3 separate regions of the Homo sapiens genome follow, and all the other regions are linked to region 1. Evidence: fine-mapped expression QTL. A gene starts in region 1. Each other region holds a variant in brackets. All regions are shown on one strand. Distances are between the middles of the regions.

Region 1 (8,191 bases):
TTTAGTCTCCTGCTATCATATTTTGGGGTGATATGTCCTGAGCCCCAACAACACATTTCTTTTTCTGGCATGCATCCCCAAATAGCCCCTGCATATAAGATAAGCAAAATAATTTGGGATATTTATATATCAAGTCCTGAGATCCATTGGTATGAGGGTGGCAAAGTTTTGAGCAGATCTAGGGGGAAAAGAAGTCCCAAGGCCTACAGATGCAAAAGTCTGTTTAAGTAAAACAAAGGTTCCTAGATATAAGAGAGGGGCAATGATAACTTGGGCTATAAGATGAAAGGCAAGGAGTGTTTGCTTCTATACATGTAATTGTATGTATATTTCTCATTATCTATGTGGACAAAACTTAACCAGTTCTTCAAGAAGGTAACATAAAGGATTGGATTGTCAAATCAGTATCACAAGCATCCTCAGAGATTTCACCCAGTATCATGCTTTACTCATAATTTCAGTTATACAATAATTGTGAGATGCAGACAAAACAGTGGAAAACCCAGGCCTGCAAAAGCACCCACTCATTCTTACTTTCCCCTTAGGACACACTCTGGCCCAGACAAACAGATAAACATATGAGGTCTCTTAATGGTGTTTGTGGCTGCACCGTTTACACAAAAGGAGATGTTTTGGTTATGACACATCTCCATTTTATACTCAGATGGTTACATGGTTATGGTTACACATAGCTTATGTGACATTTTTCCAGGAAGCCAGCCTCCATAAACCCACAGATTCTAGTTTTATGCTTTTTTTTTATATAGTGTGTTTTGCTCTTGTCACCCAGGCTGGAGTGCAATGGTGCGATCTCAGCTCATCAAGTTCAAGAGACTCTAATGCCTCAGCCTCCCAAGTAGCAGGGGTTACAGGTGAGTGCCACCATGCCCGACTAATTTTGTATTTTTAGTAGAGACAGGGTTTCTCCATGTTGGCCAGGCTGGCCTTGAACTCCTGACCTCAGGTGATCCACCTGCCTTGGCCTCCAAAAGAGCTGAGATTACAGGCGTGAGCCACTATGCCCAGCCTTAGTTTTATTTTTTTATTTGATTTTACCACTAACAATTTTAGACAATCTAATACATCCTGCTAAAATCATTCCATTGATAAGGATTTTGCAAGCAAAACACACTATATATAAGAAACCACTATAGCTAGTAGGTTTGTTATTAGCATGTTTACAATGAGATTTTACCAGGTCAGTAACGTCTTTTGTTTTTTCTCAGGGAGCCCTCTCTCTCTGTTAAAAGAATAATTTGCAGCCTGATGTGAGCAATTTTCTTTCCGCTCAAAGAATGCATTTTCTAAAAGCAGTGAGATCAAAATAAATTTTTCCCTTGGGGATACTAGAACGTATACTGTTATTTTGTTCTGCAACATTTTAGTTATACATTTTTAGGTAGGGAAAAGACTTCACTGTTTATATGTTAAGTGAACATTAGTTTCTTTTCCCTGGCTTTTGACTAAGGTTTAAAAGTTGACTTAGCTATTGAAGTCATCACTTGCTCTTACCAAGGGCACTAGTAAATTGCAGGGGAGGAAGAGGGCATCTTCCTGCAATGGATACTAGGGGATGGAAAGTCCTGCAAAGAGAGACGTTCTTTTGGCAGGATACCTAACTTTTCAAAAGCAAATTTATGTAAGTGAAGCTGGATATTTCAGCGGAATTTAGTCTGGTTTCTCTCGGCAGCACACTCAGAGAATACTTTGAGTAGAAACTTTATTTGGAATTGTGTATGCAATAAATGTAGGAAAGGAAATGTAATAGGAAAGGGAAAGTGGAACGCAATAAAGGTTATTTTCTTAATCTAGCTTCTAGAGGAGGTGACTGGAACATAACACTATTGAGTAATTCTGGGAACTGGGCAAAACACAATGTTCAGAATTACCTGACTTTAGGGCTGAGACTGCTGGACTGTATAGCAAATCACAAGATTCGTTTGTTGACGCCCATTCTGGTGATGATTATTCAGCACTTCCGGATTAGCATGTCTGAGAACAGCAAGGCTTTCAGCAGTTATTGGAGAAAAAAAGAACCCATAGATACAGCTATACAGATAACTAGTTGGCCATAGTTCCCCAAATATTCCAAGGGACATAGGCGAGGCAATGATAACTTCAGGAACAAGTGGAGATGAGTGGGAGAGATACAGTACATGGAAATCATTCACCTGTCTACGTACAAAAATAAATAGAAAGAACAGAGGCCGGGCACGGTGGCTCACGCCTGTAATCCCAGCACTTTGGGAGGCCGAGGCGGGCGGATCACGAGGTCAGGAGATCGAGACAATCCTGGCTAACACGGTGAAACCCCGTCTCTACTAAAAAAAAAAAATACAAAAAATTAGCTGGGCGTGGTGGCGGGAGCCTGTAGCCCCAGCTACTCGGTAGGCCGAGGCAGGAGAATGGCGTGAACACGGGAGGCGGAGCTTGCAGTGAGCCGAGTGAGCCACTGCACTCCAGCCTGGGTGACAGAGACTCCATCTCAAAAAACAAACAAACAAAAACAAACAAAAAAAGAACAATCAGAGTTGGCAGCTCAGAAAGAGTTAAAGAGGTATATACATATATGTTTACTGTGTGTGTGTATGTGTGTGTGTGTGTGTGTGTTTAGGTATCTTAAATATTTAAGCCTGGAGTTCTTGAAGTAAACTTGTATTTGTTGGATTTTTATTTCTAAGTCAGTGAACTAAGATGAAAAAAAGGACAATGACTGATGGACGTATTCTCACCAAACAGGGTTCTAAAAACTTAGAACCTCTAACTTCCAAATAAAGGTGGTTGTGTTAGTAATGAAAGTGTAGTAATAATCCCTATTGCACATTCTGTCATAAATTTGTACTCTCTCAAGAGAAAAACTAAAAGCAAACCCCTAATCTCCTATATTTTGAGGCAATTTTACATGGGGGAAAAATAGTATCAGACAGGTTTCTTCCAGACCAGCTTTTTCTAACACTAAAAATGAATAGATTTCAAGTAAGCAAAGGATTTTTAAATAAATCACTTCAACTAAGATTTGCATACAGTCTGGATGAAGTAGATTTTACGCTTATATTCTTCAGTGAGGATTTATAGCTCAACAAATTTGTTGGTGCAATGAAAGCAGCTCTAGGCACACAATGCAAACTGAAAAGATGGAAAGTTTTGACTTCATAAAAACTGAGAAGTCAAAGTAGTCTTTTCTTTCATTTTTTTCTGTTGTTGGTTGAAAGCCCATCTTTTACAAAAGGGTTTATCTATAGTAATATTATAATGCTTGAACATAAACAATATACAAAATATAATACACAAAACGTTTATTTGAGTGTCTGCTTTTGTATGGGGGTGCATGGTAGATTGTATTTCCAGATACTAAATCATGGATCGAAATCTCTCCTTTCAAGATTCTTATTATAGCCAATCTCTTCCACATTGGAAATTTGACCTGTTCCACATTTGATATTCCTATTAACAAGGTTACTCTTCTGTAGATGAAAAAGTGTATATCGAAGTATCAGTATAGTATCTGAATTAGATAACACACTAAACAATATAATAATGTATTAGTAAAAATAAGGAAAATAAAGAAGCTGAAGTCGTGCTTAAAGAACTTTAAGAAAATGAAAATTGAGGTGTTGAAAAAAGCTTTTAAGGCTAACGTGAATGAGGCGTCCAAGTGGGAAACCCATCCAGTTCTACTTTTTTGAACTTTGCCTGTCGTGGCCAGGATAATTAGGTAGAGATCAGAAGAACAGAGTGAGACATGGAAATCCCAATTTATGTGACCTTGGGCAAATTACTTAGCTCTGTATGCCTCAGTTTTCTCTTTGATAGATTGAAGATATTTATATATCTTTACTATCAAGCCATTTACAGAAATAAATGAGCTAAGATATGCCAAGTGCTTTAAATTGTGTTAAGTACAAGGTAAATAATAAATGTTTATTATTAAAAGAGGAAAATTCTGTAAGTAATTTTGTTATGCTAAGTAAATTTACCTTTGGTTTGCCCATCATTTCCTTCATTTTCCAGATAACCCTTTAAAATGAATTTGATTTTCAAACAATAAAAAACAAAACAGCAACAAAACTCCCTCTGACCTCCTCTCACCTTCTTTAGTCCTTGCCAAAGTGTTAATATTGCAAAAGTACTGTGAGAATTTCCTGTATTGTGGTTCCTGGAACACTTCAGAGGCTTGTGATTCTACTGCTTCTTATTCACACTATAATACATGTCTCACCAATAGATGATTCAAGAACATCATTTAAATACACAATTTTTCATTCTCTATTTTTGCTAAATTTCTTCATACTCAACTTTCAGATTCTTTAATCTCCAGCTCAGCTTCAACAATTCAACGCTGTTCTTTCTGAAAAAGTACACATCGTGCCTTCTCTACTTCGCTCTTGGAACATAATTTCTCATGGCAGGTATGTGTGATTTCAGTCACTAAATTAAAAATAACCAGAAAAGCTATTTCTTGGATTGGCTGATTTTGGGGTAATGCTTTAAGAGAAAAGGACATGATTAACAGTGGATGTTTTTAGGATTTTCATGCATTAGCACTTTCCACATTCATTATATTTTCCTGATTCTTCATTGTATAACTTAGACATGATTTCATGAAGTTTTTTCCACAGGTTTGAAGAGTGGTTTCTGACAGGGCTACCTTTAAATTCTGAGTGAGAACTGAACTTTAGCCTGGTTAAATTGTGAGCAACAGTGTTCTAGTATAGCAATAGAAAATGCCAAATATTAATGACACAATGCTGAAAAGGTTTTAATTGACTATTTATGTTGTGACATCCAAAAATTACACAAATGAACAGTTTGACACATTGTACTGTTGTTAATGACATCACTCTTTGAGAGTGTGTTCACGTTAGCACAGAATCTCCTAATGTTGAAATGTTTTAGGTGAAAGGCCTAAAAGCAAGTAATTTTGAGTATGAACAAATGGAATGTTCTAGGGGAAAAAGGATTGTTTATGTATGTTCAATATACTGTGAAATGAAGCCAGGCCTCAAAGTTGTTACCCATCAATTTGTTATCAGTTATCACACCAAGTCCAGAATGTTCCTATGTCTTCTTTTCCCTATAATATCTCTACGAACCAATGAGCAGCTAGACATTTATCAGAGCAAAACCTGCACTGAGATGAGGAGAGGGCATACTCTCAACTAGTATTATTGTGACAATGGTAGACTACGTTGAATGAAAGATTCTTGAGCTAGACACACTTTCATGTGATTTCTGACTTGGATACTTACTTGCTTTGATACCTTGAGAAAATAACATTATTATTGGACCTTATGTTTTCTCATCTATGTAATGAGAACCATACTATCTATCTTGTGATTTTGTTGAGAGAATAAAAATAAATGCCTGTTATGTAAGTCCATAAAACACAACGTGGTGCTTGTTAATATCTTCTACCTCCAGATCTTTAAGCACCTCTGCCAATTTAAAATAAATGGTAAATTCACTTTACTGCAACAGAGCTGGTAGAGAAGAAAATGTTTGAATAATCTTCCTGAAGAATAAGATACATCACATAAAAATGTTGGTATTGGGTGAAGTCCCGATTGGAAAGTCTTCAGTGTTTTATTGGCAAGATGACTCCGTTATCAAATGAAAGAATGTTGTGGATTCTCCGTCACTAGTTTCTGCTTTTAAGAACTCAGCTCCTGAGTTTGCTCTTTAAGTCATTACTCTGTCTGTCTTTCTCTACAGTGTTTAAGACCACTCTGTGGAGGTTAATTTCTGGGACCTTAGGGATAATATGCCTTTCGTTGATGTCTACGTTGGGAATTTTGTTGAAAAATTGTAAGTTTTTCTAAGCAAGTCTCCATAAAAATCAAAACTGTGAAGACATCATTTAATAATAAAGGCTTCATCTTGCTAATGTGTAATATTTTAGTATTTCATAAACCCATACCTAATTAAACAAATTTCTAATCATTTCTTATAGCTTTTACTAAACTGAGTATTGAGCCAGCATTTACTCCAGGACCCAACATAGAACTCCAGAAAGGTAGGTCACATTTTTTGGAAAACTTAGCATTGGTAAAAGATTAAATAGGCAGTTTCTTGTTTTTCACACAGAGAGGCATGATGGAATATTATACTTAGTAATAGAAATTTGCCTACCAGTGTAGGATAGTCTCATTTTACATTGCTCAATCTAATGTAAAAATGATTAAATTACACTGAATGTGTATCATTTGTACATTTAACTAATCAGGAAAATAGTAGCCTGAAACGAAAGATATGTTTCCTATATGAGTGCTCATAATTAAGTAACAAAAAATAAACCACAGGAAATGTTACAGTTAATCCTCATTACCTGCCTGAATTTGCTTATAACCTATACTTTTGCATCTCACTACTTTTCCTTTTCCAGAATATACTGCACAGATTTCTAAACCTTACTTATCCAGTGAAAGCCAGCTCAAAGTCCAATTTTCGTTTTTGGAGATGGAGTTTTGCTCTTGTCGTCCAGGCTGGAGTGCAGTGGCACGATCTTGGCTCACTGCCACATCAGCCTCCCTGGTTCAAGTGATTCTCCCACCTTCCTGCCTCAGCCTCCCAAGTAGCTGGGACTACAGGCGCCCGCCACCATGCCCAGCTAATTTTTGTGTTATTAGTAGAGTCAGGGTTTCGCCATGTTGGCCAGGCTGGTCTCGAACTCCTGACCTCAGGTCATCCACCTGCCTCGGCTTCCAAAGTGTTGGGATTATGCCGTACCCAGCAGAGCCACTGCGCCCGGCCTCAATTTTCTAAATATGTATTTTTCGGAATGCGCCCCAAGTTGTCTCACCATCATCTTGATTATATAGTGTTTATTTACAGTGCAACATCTTGGCCAGGCACAGTGGCTCACGTCTGTAATCCCAGCTCTTTGGGAGGCTGAGGTAGGCATATTACTTGAGGTCAGAAGTTCAAGACAGGCCAACCCCGTCTGTACTAAAAATACAAAAATTAGCCAGGCATGGCGGCACGCACCTGTAGTATCAGTTACTCAGGAGGCTGAGGCATGAGAATCACTTGAACCTGGGAGGCGGAGGTTGAAGGGAGCTGAGATGGTGCCACTGCACTCCAGCCTGGGCAACACAGCAAGACTCTGTCTCAAAAACAATTAAAAAATATAAAAATAATAGTGCAACATCTTCAGCACTACTTATATGGCAAAGATTTGAGTGCCTATGACGTGTCATGTTTTTATTACCGTGGGTAACAAACGTTGAAGACACTATTATTGATAAACTGTATAATTAAGCCTCAAGATAATTGGTTTATTTATATTCCCTTTTCAAAAATAAGATATCCAAACATATATCAAAATTCTCCAAATGTACCATATTCTTTTCTGACTCAGAAAGTATGCTAAAATGTTTTCCTCCTTTAAATCTTTTTCATCTAGTTAACTCCTATTTATGCTACAGTACTTAGTTTTGAGTCACTTCCTCAAAAAAAGGTTCTTGTAACTGCCCCTCATCTTACACTCTGCTACATGCTGTTTTAACATACTTAATTTTTTTGTACTTATCTAAATCATCACTAAATATCGTTAATAAATTATTGAAAATTATATAATTGTAATTCTATCTCTAGAATATAATCTCCATGAGGAAAAAGCATCATGTTCATGTCTAATTAGTTCACATTAGTAGCCCCTGAAGTGTGGTGTATACAGTAGATTCTGAATGTTAAAAGAATACACAGCAAATAATTTTTGAATAATTAAATAGCATTGAAAAAAATGTCTAGTCTCCAGTGTCATTAGTCATGCTTTATGTTTTCTGTCAGACTCTGACTGCTGTTCTTGCCAAGAAAAATGGGTTGGGTACCGGTGCAACTGTTACTTCATTTCCAGTGAACAGAAAACTTGGAACGAAAGTCGGCATCTCTGTGCTTCTCAGAAATCCAGCCTGCTTCAGCTTCAAAACACAGATGAACTGGCATGTGCTGAGTCTGATTTTCTACATTTTCTTTGATCTAGAAAAATATACTATCTAAACAAGTTAAATACTTTGGTTTAAGTCATTAATCACATAGTAAGTGGATGGTTATATTGGAATTGAGTTATCTGTTCTGTGTACCTTAAAGTAGTCATTGTAAAATCTTTATTAAATTCCTTAATGATTATATCATGGGAATACAAATCAAGATAGGTGCCAAATAAAGTGAAAGAAACTTTTCAGGAAGAATT
Region 2 (8,191 bases), 21 kb after region 1:
GAAAACTGTGTGCCTTTAATTCTTTTTATCACCTTGTCACAGTGGCCAGAATATTCAACACAAAGTTGAATACAAGTGGTGAGTAAACACCCTTGTTTTGCTATTGATCTTAGAGCATGAATATTCACTTTTTTTACCTTTATACTTAATTTTAGCTGTAGGATTTTCATAAATGACCTTTACTAGGTTGAGAAAGTTCCCTCCTATTCCTAGTCTGATGAGAATTTTTATAAGGAGTACATATGACATATGCTTTTATTAAATGTTTTATTCTGCCTCGATTGAAATCAGATAGTTTTTATTTCCCAGTTATAAACCTCAGTTGTTCATGTTATCTTTTTTACGTATCTTTGCAGATGCTTTGCTAATTTTTTAAAATTTTATTTTATTGAGGTAAATACAACATAAGATCTATCCTCTTAACAAATTTTCAAGTCTACAGTACAGTATTATTAACAATAGGTACAATGTTGTATAGTAGATCTCTATAATTTATTCATCTTGCATAATTGAGGCTTTATGCCCTTTGATTAACGACGTCCCATTTTTTCCTCTCTCCATTCCTGGCAACCACCATTCTATTCTCTGATTTTATAAGCTTGACCACTTTAGATATTTCACGTAAGTGGAATCATATAGTATTTATCCTGTGACTTGTTTATTTCATTTAGCATAATGTCCTCAAGTTTCATCCACATTGTTACATATTGCAGGATTTCATTTTTAAGGCTGGATAATATTCTATTGTATGTGTATGTACACATTGGCTACTGTGACTAGTATAGCAATGGACAGTAGTATACTAATATTTCTTTGAGATTCTTATTTCAATTCTTTTGCATAATTACCCAGAAAGGGGATTGGTGGATCATATGGTAGTTCTATTTTTAATTTTTTGAGAAATCACCATCCTGTTTTCCACAGAAGCAGCACAATTTTTCATTCCCACCAAAGTGTTCAAGGGGTCTAATTACCCCACGTACTTCTCAACACTTGTCTTTCATTTGTTTGATAATAGCCATCCTTATAAGTGAGAGATGATATTTGGTGGTTATAATTTGCATTTCCCTGATGATTAGTGATATTGAGCATCATTTCATATGCCCATTGACCCTTTGTATGTTTTTTATGAAGAAATGACCATTCAAGTCTTTGATACATTTTTTAATTGGGTTACTTGTGTTTTTTTTAATATTGAGTTGTAGGAGTTCTTTATATGTTTTGGATATTGACTCCTTTTCTGATATATGATTTGCAATTATTTTCTCCCATTCTGTAGATCATCCTTTCATTCCATTGGTTATTTCCTTTGTGAACCCTGAAAATTTGAGACAGGTCTCAGTTAATTTAGAAAGTTTATTTTGCAAAGGTTGAGAACATATGCCCATAACACAGCCTCACCTCAGGAGGTCCTGCTGACATGTGCCCAAGGTGGTCAGGGCACAGTTTGGTTTTATACATTTTAGGGAGACATGAGACATCAATCAACATATGTAAAATGAACAGTGGTTTGGTCTAGAAAGGTGGGACAATTCAAAGCAGAAGTGAAACAACTGGAAGCAAGGAGGGGGCTTCCAGGTCACAGGTAAGAGACAAATGGTTGCACCTTTTTGTTTCTGATTAGCCTTTCCAAAGGAGGCAATCAGATATGCATTTATCTCAGTGAGCAAAGAGATGACTTTGAATAGAATGGGGGGCTCCCAGGTCACAGGTAAGGGACAAATGGTTGCATCTTTTTGTTTCTGATTAGCCTTTCCAAAGGAGGCAATCAGATACGTATTTATCTCAGTGAGCAAAGAGATGACTTTGAATAGAATGGGAGGCAGTTTTGCCCTAAGCAGTTCCCAGCTTGAATTTTCCCTTTTGTTGAGTGATTTTGGGGGCCCAAGATATTTTCCTTTCACACCTTTGATGCGAACAAGCTGTTTGTTTGCTATAGTCCTACTTGTCTATTCTTGCTTTTGTTGCCTGTGCTTTTGGTGTCAGATTGATGATATCATTGCCAAAACCAATGTCAAAAGGTTTTCCTCTATGTTTTCTTTGAAGGGCTTTACATTTTCAGTACTTACATTTAGGCTTTTAATCCATTTGAAATTTATTTTTGCATATGGTGTAAGATAAGCAATTTCTTTGCAATATGGATGTTCATTTTTCCCGTCACTGTTTGTTGAAGAAACTGTCATTTCCCCTTAAATAGTCCTGCCACCCAAAGACCGTTTAACCATATTTGCAAAGTTTATTCCCAAGTTCTCCAATCTGTTTAATTGGTCTATATGTTCATCTTTATGCCAGTGCCATATTGTTTCAATTATTGTAGCTTTGTAATATATTTTGATATCAGGAAGTTTGAGGCCTCTGGCCTTCTGTTTCTTGCTCAAGATTTGTTTGGCTATTCAGGGCTTTTTGTGGTTCCATGTATATTTTAGTATCATTGTTTTCCTAATTCTAAAATGCCATTGAGGTCTTGATAGGTATTGCACTAAATCTGCAGATCACATTGTGAAATACAAATATTTTAACTATATGAAGTCTTTTAATAAATGAATATAGGAGGATTTTTGCATGTTGATTTTGTACCCTGCAACTTTACTTGGTTTTAGGAGGCTTTTTTGTGGATTCTTTAGAGCATGCCATAGGCAAACAGGGACCATTGTACTTCTTCTTTTACAATCTGTATGTTGTTAATTTCTTTTCCTTGCCTAAGAGCTTTAAGTAGGACAAGGGTTAAATAGAAATGGCAAGTGCAAACATCCTTGCCATGTTTCTGATGTCAGAGGAAAAGTTCAGCTTTTTCCATAGCATGATATTAGCTATGCACTTTACATATAGGGCCTTCAAAATGTTGAAATATTTTTCTCAAATTCTAGGTTGGCAGGAGTTATCATCATAAAATGGGTATTAAATTTTGTGAAAACTTTTTTTCTGAATCTATTGAGATGCACAGGTGACATTTATCCTTCATTCTATTAATGTGGTATATTACATTAATTGATTTTGTATGTTAGGCTATCCTTGCACCCCAGGGATAAATGCCACTTGCTTATGGCATATACTCCTTTTAGTGTACTGTTGAATTAATTTTGCTACTACTTTGTTGAGGATTTTTGCATCTACGTTTACTAGACATATTGGCTTATAGTTTTCTTGTGGTATCTTTGACAAGCTTTGGTGTAATGGTAATGCTGGCCACATAAAATTAGTTTGAAAGTATTTATTCTTTTTAAATTTTTATATAATAGCTTGGGAAAGATGGCCATTAATTTCTCCTTAAATATTTGGTGGCTTCACCAGAAGAGCCATCTTGTCCTGGGAATTTTTTTGTTGTAAGTTTCTTGATTACTGATTCAATCTTCATTCTAGTTATAGATACGCTCATATTTTCTATTTCTTCATAATTCAGTCTTGGTAGGTCCTTGTCTTTGTGAATTTTTTCATTTCTTCTAGGTTATCCAATTTGTTGGCCTATAATTGTTCTTAGTTGTCTCTTACCATCTTTTATATTTCTGTGGCATCAGTTGCAATGTCTTATTTCTGATTTCATTTATTTAAGGCCTCTCTTCTTTTTCTTAGTCTAGCTAAAGGTTTGTCAAGTTATTTATATTTTCCAAAAACTAACTCTTAGTTTTGTTTACTTTTTATATATCCTTTCCATTCACTATTTTATTTCTGAACTAATCTTTATTATTTTCTTTATTCTTCTAAATTTGAACTTTGTTTGTTCTTTTCTACATTTCTAGTTGCTTGGGATATGTATTAGTCCATTTTCACACTGTTGATAAAGACTTAACTGAGAGACTGGGTAATTTGTAAAGAAAAAGAGGTTTAATGGACTCACAGTTCCACGTGGCTGGGGAGGCCTCACTATCATGGCAGAAGGTAAAACACATGTCTCACATGGCGGCAGACAAGAGAGAATGAAAGCCAAGCCAAAGGGGGTTTCCCCTTATAAAACCATCTGATTTCATAAGACTGATTCACTACCATGAGAACAGTATGGGGGAAACCACCCCCATGATTCAATTATCTCCCACTGGGTCCCTCCACCAACATGGGGGAATTATGGGAGCTACAATTCAAGATGAGATTTGGGTGGGGACACAGCCAAACCATATCAAGGTATAAAGTGCATTGTTTGAGACCTTTCTTTTTTCTTAATGCAGATATTCATCACTATAAACTTTTCTTTTAGCCCTACTTTTACTACATCCCATAAGTTTTGTTAGACTTTATTTTTGTTTTCATTTATTCTAATGTGTTTTTAAATTTCCCTTTTGATTTATTCTTTGCAGATTGGTTGTTCAAAAATGTATTGTTAAATTATCACATATTTATTAGTTTTCCTTTTGCAACTGATTTCTAGTTTCATTCCCTTGATGCTGTAAAAGATACTTGATATGACTTCAATTTTCTTAATTTTCTTAAGACTTCTTTTATGACCTAACATATGATCTATCCTGCAGAATGATCCATGTGCACTTGAGAAGAATGTATACTCTGCTGCTGTTGGATGGAATGTTCTGCACATGTCTGTAGGTGACTTGACTTGCAGTGTTGATCAGGTCATCTGGGTCTTTGTTGCCTTTATGTTTGGTTGTTCTATCCATTATT[A/T]AAAGTGAGCACTGAAATCTCCTACTGTTATTGTATTGCTATCTATTTCTCCCTTAAGTTCAGTCAATGTTTGCTTTATACCTTTAGATACTCTGATGTTGGGTGCATATATATTTAAAATTATTGTATCCTCCAATGTGAATTGACGCCTTTATCATTATGTAATATCCTTCTTTTTTTCTTGTGACAATTTTTGACTTAAAGTCTATTTTTTATAATATCAGTAAAGGCATTTTTTGTTGTCTTTTAGTTATTATTTGGCGAAGGATTTTTGCAGTCTTCTTCAACCTTCATGCTAGTCCAACTGGCTTTCTTTTTTTCTTGGTAGATTCCAGGCATCTAGAATATCCCAGGTCCTGTCAGTGCTCTGAGATAAACAGGAATAAAGCTAGCTCCTCAGGCAATCTCCAGAAAATATGGATTATCAGTTGTTTAGTTCAACTTTTTCCCCCAAGGAGAAGCTGAGAGTTAAAGGTTTTGGTCCACTCACTCCATCTTGATCCAAGGAGTGGTTGAAACTGCCAGCTCACCCCACCATCTATGTTCTTGCTGGTCCCACGCAGCCAGGCTATGCTTGGTTCTATCAGTACACTGAGACAGGCTAGAGAGAAGCCAGTCTTAGGAGTAGCCCCTGGAAAAATTGGGGAATTGGACATGCCATCCATCATTTATTAACCAAGAGCAAAGCTGGGAGCAGGGGAGTTTCTCCCTGGTTTTTTGGCACTGTGCTGGGGGCAGGAATTAGGGAAGGAGTGTACCTTAGATTTCCCTAAGGCTTCAACATGAGTAGTTTCACCAACAGCATTGGAGCATCTCAACTAGTTTCTTAATTTCCCACAAAGAAAATTTGTCTATGAATTTTTAGTTGAATTGGTGCATTTGTAGAGAGAAAAGAGACCAGGGCTTCCCACTCTGTCATCTTGCTAATTTTACTCCACCATTTATTTTATAATTTAAATATATAAAAATAAGATACATATTTATAATTTATGTGTATGTATATGTATATATTTTAAATTTAATGTATATATAAAAACATTTGCTGTATTTCTAAACTGGAATACAATACAATGAAATTTAATTGCATCTTAAATGGACAAAACATTACCATGCGTAAATGGAAAAAATTGTGGCTGGAGTTACCTCATGATGGAGAGAACAAATACCACTGTACACAACGCCACCAAACATCCTGTATGAGCTATGATAACACAATCCCATATAGTACTAAGTAGGCTTTCTGATATTTTCTACTCGCCAACTGAGGTTTTCTTAAATATATTCTTAGAAGTGTTTCTAGCTATGATGCACATATGTTGTAAAATCCAATGTAATATTTTTTTCATACATGGTTTTAATTGCTCCAACATTAAAATGGTTAGACTTGCATTTTTTCAGCCAACATAGGTGACAGCTGTTTGTTAAAATACTAAATAAATTACACAGACAGGCTACAAGAAAGTAAGCCTGTACATTAAGAACACAGTCACCTGAGGTTAACATTTTAGAATTTTTATTTATTGAGAGCTTATAATAAGTCTTCCATACAACCTTTGACAGGTTTGAAGTATGAAATAGATTTCAGAGTAAGGATTTAAGAGAAAGGGCACTTTAACAAATAACAGTAGCTAAATCCTCAGTTTCTCACGTTGCAGAGATGGTTGTCTAATCCCAGATATCTCCTATCTCTCCCCCAAACTCATAAAATTAATAAGAAAAGCAAATAAAACCACATAATACCTTATCCTTTCAACATCTCTAGGACACATAGAGTACCACAACCTTCAAATTACCTATAAATAGAGAAAAAATATTGCAAAAGAACACTCGCTCCTGCCTACCACTGAATACCTGCGGTGCAGGATAGGGAGATTAGTCTTTAACATACTCAGAAGAGAAGACTAGAGGACATAAATGAATCACAGATACAATAAACCCTGAAAGATAAAACTTCAACAATCAATGCCAGAATACTTAACACAATTTTGGACTTGGTAGTTCATAGTACTGGGAAAAGGCTTGAAACTGAAGACCAGAAGTGGAAAACTTGGAAAGGAAAACAATGGTTTCTTGGAGAGAAGCAGAAAATAAAGGAGTGACACTCCTTAGAAATGTGACTATCAAAGCAAATAAGTAATGTGAGGGACTTAAGAATCCTGCAGAAAGGAAAGAGAAAAAAGACATGACTATCATTTGCCCTTCCCAATCCCATCATCACCACCACCCATAGAGGACACTATGCTGAATAGGACAGAACTGACAGAAGAGGGAGCTCTCTAACTAGGTTCCTTGTCCACGAAACAGGAATAGGAAAAAACAGACCATATTTATGTGAAACCTCTTTAAAACTTCAGATAATGTAAATAAAAATATTTTTCTTTTGAAAAATCACTCACTCAAAAAAGGAAACAACCACTAAGCAGATGAAAAGTGTAATAAACACTGCAAATTGAATTAGACATTCTAACGCAATCATAAAAACAAGACCACAAATGCCAAAAAAATAATAAGGTTGGTATGAAACAGGAGTTGAACTGTGAGAGGTAATAGTATACCACAGTAAAATAATGAACAAAGATTTACAAGATGAATGTTAGCAATAAGAAAGGGGTTGCAATTCTGATGCCAAAGAAGTAGACATAAAAACAGAACTAAATGAGGCAAAGAAAGATGTTGTATAATATTAAAATCTACATACTGCAATGAAGAGTACATAGTTAAGAATTTATGTAGTAATTAATACACTGATTATTTATATAAAATACAAATTACAAGAGATGCAAGAAAAAAAAAGACCATAACATATTAATACAGGGTGATTTTAATATACCACTCTCAATATAAGGCAGAAAGTGTGGGCAAAAATAAGTTATTTTCCGGAAGATCTAAATAAGATAGTATAGCAGATATTTTGAATACATATTGATCACTATGCACTGATAATATAAAATATATTTTTTTCCAAATGCACCTGAAACATTCACAAAAATTGAACAAATAAAGCTCATGAGAAAAGTAAAACTGTATGGCTATCTCCTTAACTAGAAAAAAATATACGTCTACACACATACAGTCAACCTTGAACAATGTGGGCATTAGGACCACTGACCTCCTCTGCAGTTGACAATCCATATATAACTTTTGACTCCCTAAAAACTTAACAACTAATAAACTATTTTTGACACCATCATTTTGTTTCTAGTTCTACATTTCAATCAAAATGATTAAAACAAATAAAACCAAACTTGTTTACAAATATACGAAGAGTCACTGTGGAGGGAAAAGCTCTTTAATTTATTTCTCAAGATATAGATCCAACAGGACTGCAAAGTGGAACAGTTCTCAGAAGCCTGATTCAGGAAGATGTACCCGGGTTTTGGCACCAAATTTCACACGCGTCCGTGTGAAGAGACCACCAAACAGGCTTTGTGTGAGCAACATGGCCGTTTATTTCACCTGGGTGCAGGCGGGCTGAGTCTGAAAAGAGAGTCAGCAAAGGGAGATAAGGGTGGGGCCGTTTTATAGGATTTGGGTAGGTAAAGGAAAATTACAGTCAAAGGGGGTTTGTTCTCTGGCGGGCAGG
Region 3 (8,191 bases), 24 kb before region 1:
TTTACAAATTACGTTACCTAAATACATCCAATTGAGACAAAATCTCAAAGAATGCATGTTCAGAACATGATTATAATACTTACATAATCATATGTATAACTTGTATCAAGAATTTTTCCATCCTTATATTATTTCTTATTCTCATTACATCAAAATTTTTCCTGCCTCATGTTATTTCACATTATTATCTGTCTCTACATTCCTCCCTCTTTCCTCTTCCAACAAAAAATCCTTTTATGATTCTGAAGCTAATGTTGTTACCTGTGGTCCTACTTGTCCAAATGATAATGACACTAATGTGATAGTTAATAGTGGTCACCACATCCAGGCTTGCAAATCTCAGTTTTGATTTCCTTCTCCTCTGTTAAGTAAAACCTACTGCTTCTGGGCCAGATACACAGATTTGACTTTCAATATCTCTTGCAGTAGAATTTTATTATTTTTCATCAGAAATGTCTTTCTCCTTTCCCATGACACAAGTTAGAATTACCAACAATCGTTACAATAACATCGGTGGTCTAGGTGCTAAATGTTCTTTCCAGGGCTAGCAACACTGTGGTTGGAAGTGTTCTGTACAGAGGAACGTACAGTGAAATGATGTGTCAGCCACACTTTTTGCACACCTTGAGTGTATTAACCAGATGCCTGATGTTTAAATGAAAAATAATCACTGGATTAAATGCAGGAGAAAAATCTCTTTTCCTTTCTGAAGAAAAAATTCAACATGGGCTAGATCAGAATAGAGATGGACCGCTTCAGAATAAATATTTATTTAATAATTATATGGAAAACATTTAAGTAGCCAATATTCTAGGAAAATATACAGCAGAATACTTAATCAGAACTTTGTTTTTATTTCTTTATTATTAATTGCAAATAGATTTTTTAGCTACCCATAGTCTAGACAATATTGTGTAGGGCAGCAGGATGATGTTCACGCCGTGCTCCATCGTTGAGTATCAGAAGATGCCAAGAGTTCAGGACAGATTCTAGCCATTTCCAGGACCTGAAAATGAGGAAGGAGCTAGAGAATTATATAATTTTTCCACTTTCTCATCCCAGCTTCTCTTCTCCTACCAATGCTTTCCAATGGTTGAAAACAGACAGAAGCCAGAGGGTGAGGAAGACTGTGTGATACAGTTGTCAGAGCTCAGCTGCACAGAATGCAGCAAAAAAGCATGGAGAATGGAGGTGAGGTGTGGTTTGAAAACCAGGTGTTGAGAATCCTGCCCCCAGAAGCCTGTGGTGGTAGAGTTGTGAAAGATCCACTGGGAACCCGTTGCACATCCATATAATAAACTATGTGTGAATGTTTCTTGTAGGTAAAAGGGGTCCAGATGAGAGCAGGGAATAACCTGGACTCATCCTAGATTCTATAGTAGGCTGAATAATGGCTCCAAGTATATCCAGGTCATAATCATTGGAAGCTGTGAATGCTACCTTATAGGGCGAGAGATACTTAGGAGAAGTGAGAAGAGATTGAGGATCTTGAGATTGAAGGATTATTTTGGATTATCAAAGTCAGCTTAAAATGTAACCCCAAGTATCCTTATAAAAGGGATGCAGAGGGAGATTTGAGTACAGAAAAGGAGGAGGCAGTGCAATCATGGGAACAGAAGCTGGAAAGACAAAACCACAAGTGAGGGAACGCTGGCAGACATGAGAAGCTGGATGAGGAGAGGAACAGATTCAGCCCTGCTGTAACCTTGATATTAGCTCCATAAGACTTTTCAGACTCCAACCCTCTAAAACTGTAAGAGAATAATTTTTGTTGTTTTTCTTACTAAATTTGTGCTTGTTTGTTACAGCAGCAATAGTATACTAAGACAGCTGCCATGCATGAAGAGTGATAGGTGGGATATAGCGCTCTAACAGAAAATATGAGACACCTGGTTTGAGGGTGAGGAAGAATCAAAACCACACAACACACAAGTGCAGGTTCATTGCCCATGTCAGGAGTTGTAGTTGCAGGGCTCCGCAGGGATGTATCCAAGAACCCCCTGAGATTCTCTCCCGAGACAAAGAGAGGAATCATCTACACTACCTTTTTCTGTGCTGATTTTCTCATCTGAGTTCAGTTGGAGCCAAAGGAAAAAGAAAAATTTTAGCTTTGCATAAAATTCAAAAATTTTGTTATTATATAGATTTAGGAATTTGAATTCCTGAAATGACACATTCCCGTGACTGAACATGACTAAGAGACGATTATCTGAGAATTACTTACATAATTGGAGACTCCGGGGAAGCAGGTGAAGAGCAAGACTATATATCCAATTTAGAGGGAAATTGAGGGAAACCTTGGTCATAAACTTACACGGCAGTATTTGAATTATTCTAATTGTTTTGGTTACATAAATAGAATTCTGTAGTCTTGAGAAACAATAATTCTCATACAAATGTAGCCTTCTAATCTGAATTCTGTTAAAACTACCAATAACCACTAATCTCTTCTAGTTTTAATCTTCTGGTTTATCATTTTTGTGAATTTGAGAATAAAGTACTCTGATCGTTATATGTCACTCTTCTATTCATTATTTTTATAAAAATATAAATATTTGATTTCTCTAACATTGCCTATAATTTTTTAATGTCAGCATTATATAATAAAATACATTCTCCATAAAGTTACAAATATCAAATAAAAACATATACACATATGTATACATACATTTTTTTTTTTTTTTGAGACTGAGTTTCACTCTTATTGCCCAGGCTGGGGTGTAATGGCATGATCTCGGCTCACCACAACCTCCGCCTCCCGGCTTCAAGTGATTCTCTTGCTTCAGCCTTCCTGAGTAGCTGGGATTACAGGCATGCACTACCATGCCCGGCTAATTTTGTATTTTTAGTAGAGATGGGGTTTCTCCATGTTGGTCAGGCTGATCTCGAACTCCTGACCTCAGATGATCCGCCTGCCTCAGCCTCCCAAAGTGCTGGGATTACAGGTGTGAGCCACCACATCTGGCAAATAAAAATATAATTACTATAAAGTTCATATATAGTATTATGTTTAAAATGGTATGCCACTTTATATTTTGGCTTTAAGTTATTGGTCCTGTGACTGAACTTTGGCTTCTTTCTCTTTTGTAAGAAATATTGTAGAGCATACATAATGATGTGGGTACAAAGTTAGAAGATGTGTTCAAGGAAGGCATTCCAAAGGAGGTGTCATTTGAGTAATGTCAAATGAGCGACGTTTGACGTAGAGAGTCTCTAAAATATTTGAGCAAGGAACTGTTCAAATAGTGGACAGTCTCTACAACCTAAGACTGAATGGTTTGTTTGAGAAGTAGCATTGGGGCTAGATCAGAGGGAGGGACTGAGCAGAAATAGGTAGAAATAAAGACAGAGAAATTGTCAGGGAAACAAGAGTGTAGTAGATATTATTCAAGGTAGGTTGATGTATTCGTGAATGTCCAGGCAGGAAAACAAATTCTGTGCCAAGTCATTACATAGAGGGAAGTTAACAGAGGAGGGTATTTATCAAACAGTTGGAGAAATCTAAGAGTCCGTCAGGAGAAAGAAGACAATTCAGATATGGGCAAAACAGAAAGCTGGTACTATTCCCAGAGCTAGAGGAAACAAGGGAGCAGGTGGGTTTACCAGAACCACTTGATGGGGACTGGCACCACAGTGGCTGGTGCCTGCCACGAGGCAGTTGCTATTTGGCAGCAGTTCAAACAACATAGCATGAGGGAAGGACAAAAACACGATTCCATTTGTATGAGGCATCTAAAATAGTCTAATTCATAGAAGCAAGGAGCAGAATAGTGGTTACCAGGGACAGTGAGGAGCGGAGAGTGGGGATAAGGTTTTAGTAATGCAAAATGAGTAAGCTCTAGAGATCTGCTGTACAACATTGTGCCTAGACTTAACAATATTGTATTGTACATTTCAAAATTTGTTAATAGAGTAGATCTCATGGTGTATTCCTATCACAATAAAATAAATATTAAAATTAAATAAAACAGACCAGTACATAGCATGTGTGGTCACTGCAGGAGATAAAGCCTGAAGCAGAGAGGGGAAAGACAAAATAACAGGCTTCTCCCCTCTTCCTACCTTCCAAATCTCAACCCAGTGGCTCCATTGACTCCACCTACCTGGAAGCTGGTTAGCCATGGAGGTGGTGAAACATGTGTTGCAGGAATCAGCACCCCAAGAAACAAGCAGAACAGGGGAAAACCAGGGAGGACAAAGAGAAAAGTGACTGACAGAGTGGAAGAAACCAAATCTATCAATGCATAGAACCATTATATTTTGGGAGAGATACTTCTCATACTCAATCAAAAGTAAGACTTGTTGGCTGGGCATGGTGGCTCATGCCTGTAATCCCAACACTTTGGGAGGCCGAGGTGGGCGGATCACCTGAGGTCAGGAGTTCAAGACCAGCCTGGCCAACATGGTGAAATCTCATCTCTATTAAAAATACAAAAAAAAAAAAAAAAATAGCTGGGCATGGTGGTGGGCGCTTGTAATCCCAGCTACTCAGGAGGCTGAGGCAGGAGAATCACCTGAACTGGGAGGTGGAGGTTGCAGTGAGCCCAGATCGCACCAGTGCACTCCAGCCTGGGTGACAAGAGTAAAACTCTCTCTCAAAAAACAACAGTAACAACAACAACAACAACAACAAAAGACTTGTTAACACAATATTCTGTGAAGAGATTCAACTTACCTTGTCCAATCTATACATAGGTTTACTATAACATGTGTGTAAAATCACTCAGATAAATTATCAGTATGAAACCACATGTGGAGGGGCTCAGTAAGTGGGGAATAGGTGTTTTGAACAAAGAATTGAGTATAATTTAATCCACATACTGACACAGGAGATAAGTCCCCAGTTCTTTATCCATAAGGCTAAAAACCAAATCTCTGTAAACAAAATGTTTTCATTAGTTTGGTTCCAAAACCTGAACTTAGCTAATCATAGTTTTTGTTTTATACATTTTGCTGTGGAAATATTAAT[G/A]TGCTGGGTTATAGCGTGAATCATCAAATGCCAATGAGGCTGTTAATTCATGTATGTATAAACACATATATTTTAAAATAAAAACTAATAAATTTTAAAGTACATTTCTCTCCACAAATTTCAGATAAGAAATTAGGGTCTCTGGGCCAGGCACAGTGGCTCACACCTGTAATCCCAGCACTTTGGGAGGCCAAGGCGGGCAGATCACCTGAGGTCAGAAGTTCGAGACCAGCCTCAACGTGGAGAAATCCCGTCTCTACTAAAAATACAAAATTAGCCGGGCATGGTGGTGCATGCCTGTAATCCCAGCTACTCAGGAGGCTGAGGCAGGAGAATTGCTTGAACCTGGGAGGCGGAGGTTGCGGTGAGCCCAGATCGTGCCATTGCACTCCAGCCTGGGCAACAAGAGCGAAACTCCATCTCAAAAAAAAAAGAAATTAGGGTCTCTGTATCCTACACATCATTTAGTTTCCACTTAAAAGTTTTTAGATGTATGGTGAGAGAACTATATATAAAAGAACAATCTATGCCCTATTCCTGTGAGATTTCTCTTCATTATCTGGCTCTACTGATGTTGCCAGTGTACCATGCTAGCAATGTTGCATATTAACCTGGAGTAAAATATCATTTCTGTATTTTCAAAATTCTTTACTACTATTTATAAAATAAATTCTTACCTTTAGATTGTGTTGTTGCTAAAATTGAAATTTAAGTAGAGAGTCGTGTGACTGATAAAAATGGGTTCCTTCTTTTAAAAACAGTCTGTAAAACCACAGCCAGTCAAGTCACGTTTATTCTAGAAATTATTTTTGCCATATGCTAGTTTTCTTTTCCTCTCATGTGAACCATCTTTATGTCTAGTCTGAAAAATTCCTGTTACAGTCACCATTCTGTCATGATAAGGGTTCTGAAATAACTCAGGGACAAACCATTCCTTTCTTTAAGCTTCCAATATGAAATAAGTCCTTTGTGTATCAATAGTCACCAGGATAATTTTTCACATGGTTTTATTTAACATCTTTCTTCATGGTACCTTAAAGTTGTTTTTTTTGTGTGTCTTTACCTGCCCATTATTTCCACCTACAAAACACGCTATCTCTAAGCACATTATCCGAAGAAAATTCCAGTTAAAAATCATCTCATAGAAAATATGACTAGTATTTACAGTCCAGTCAATGCTTTATGATTCTTATGTTATTTTTTCTTTGTGATTGACTCTTTCCTATTCCCTCCTCTTCTCTTAACAGGTAAATATTGTCACAGCTCTAAGTTTAGTAATGTTTCCTATGTTTACACTTGCTGGAATAACAAAAATAGCGCAGCTACAGTGCTAGTGATCAGCCACATCCATGCTTGTAAACCTCAGTTCTGGTCTCTTCTCTCCTCCTTAAGCTGTGTCTTCTGCTTTTTGCCCAGGTAAATTGCTTCAACTCCCAATATTGTTTGCAACAGCATCTTACTGTTTTCGCCAGACACGCCATTTCCTCTACCCATTACCCATCCACTTTATCCCCAACATCCTGCGGCCACACCAAGACCAGTGTAGGTGTTAACTGTTATTTTAGGCAGCAGCAACTCTGTGGTTGGAAACATTCTGTACCATACGGTGTGATGTGTCAGCCACACCTGTTACACATAAAGTGTACTGATGACTGAGGTCTCACAGGGGTCCAGGGTCATATCAGAGTCCGGAGATTTCCGTGAAAGCTTAAAGTTCAGTCTGCAAACTCACTGTAACTAATAATGAATAGCTTATGTCCTATCTACCTCAATATGTTTCTTAATGGTTTTGAGCACTAATTAGGTGTTAAATACCCTATATGTTTATACATTAAACCATTCTCAGAACATATTTCCAATAAACTATTTAGTTGCATTTTACGTTTTACACATGATGGAAAAGAATCTTAAAGGGGTTATGTAACCTACTCAAGTTTACGATCTACCAAAAGCAGAATCAAACATTTGAAACTACTCACTTTTGACATCTTGTATTTAGCAGATTGAAGAAGCAGAAAGAATAATTACCTGATAAGGATTGATTAGAAATTAGTTTTGAATGCAAAATAGTCTTTGAATCATCATTTTATTTCGCTTATGGTGCTTTTTTTTTTTTTTTTTTTTTTTTTTTATAGAGACGGGATCTCACTTTGTTGCCCAGGCTGGTCCCAAACTCCTGAGATCAAGTCATGCTCCCATCTTGGCCTCCCAAAGTGTTGGAATTACAGGCATGAGCCACCGCATCTGGTCCCGTAACTGTTTACATTCAGTTTTGTTCTTATAAAGAACCTCACTGGGCACCAGGTGCAGTGGCTCACACCTGTAATCCCAGCACTCTGGGAGGCGAGGCAGGGGGATCACCTGAGGTCATGAGTTCGAGACCAGCCTGGCCAATGTGGCAAAACCCCATTTCTACTAAGAATACAACAATTAGACGGGCGTGGTGGTGCGCCTGTAGTCCCAGCTACTCAGGAGGCTGAGGCAGGAGAATCGCTTGAACCCGGGAGGCAGAGGTTGCAGTGAGCTGAGATTGTACCACTGCACTCCAGCCTGGGTGACAGAGTGAGACTCTGTCTCAAAACAAAAACAAAACCCTCTTTTTTTTTATTGTTTATCTGTTTGTGTTTTTTTGATGATTAAAAACCGTGGTGAAACTGTACCTAAAAGCAAAGATGGATATGCATTGTAAGGCACAGGTTTGAAGTTAGACAGCCATGGGAGAATGCAAGGGTATGTATGAGATTGGTATAGTCAATAAGTATTTGCTGGTATTTGTTTCATACACAAATACATGCATATATACAAATAACTCCGAATTTTTTTTTATTTAACACTCAGACCTCTCACAGATAGGTTGCAAAAAAATGTTATACAAATAATGAGAGCATTTCCTCCCATGAAACCTAACTTCAAACAAATCCAAATAAATTCTAAGTTTTAAAAAAGACCATCCATTTTGGTGCCAACATCCTTTTCAAGTGAATTATTTATATACTGAAGTATTATAAAACCTATAAATAGATATTGTTATATATAAACAGATACTTTTACGAATTAAATTATGCTTCTTAGAAGACAGAAGCATGAAATGGAGAAACGAGGAAATAAAATATGTAACTAAAAATTTGCTAGGACTTTAAAAACCACCCCTAGGTTATACAAAACTACGGGGATAACTTAGTTTAATTATCTGTCTAAATACGGATTTTTACCTCTGTAAGA

What was found. PIP is the estimated chance that this variant, and not a neighbour inherited with it, causes the effect.
Region 2: its variant is fine-mapped to the expression of KLRD1 in whole blood (TOPMed, PIP above 0.99).
Region 3: its variant is fine-mapped to the expression of KLRD1 in whole blood (INTERVAL, PIP above 0.99).

What each region holds. Positions count from the first base shown.
Region 1 is chr12:10,303,676-10,311,866 of GRCh38, forward strand. KLRD1 (killer cell lectin like receptor D1) reads left to right here and starts at 4,195. Exons shown (of 6, transcript NM_002262.5): 1 at 4,195-4,409; 2 at 5,713-5,805; 3 at 5,951-6,013; 4 at 7,789-7,940. The coding sequence starts at 4,403.
Region 2 is chr12:10,324,979-10,333,169 of GRCh38, forward strand. It overlaps KLRD1 (killer cell lectin like receptor D1), which reads left to right. Exons shown (of 6, transcript NM_002262.5): 6 at 1-4,630. It overlaps LINC02617 (long intergenic non-protein coding RNA 2617), which reads right to left. Exons shown (of 3, transcript NR_159946.1): 3 at 7,882-8,085. Among named protein-coding and RNA genes, the nearest start is that of LINC02617, 9.2 kb to the right of the region's middle. The variant A/T (reference allele first, on the strand shown) is at 4,609.
Region 3 is chr12:10,279,590-10,287,780 of GRCh38, forward strand. It overlaps LOC105369656 (a long non-coding RNA gene), which reads right to left. Exons shown (of 2, transcript XR_931353.3): 2 at 846-1,006. It also overlaps a transcript of KLRD1 not described here. Among named protein-coding and RNA genes, the nearest start is that of KLRD1, 24 kb to the right of the region's middle. The variant G/A (reference allele first, on the strand shown) is at 4,970.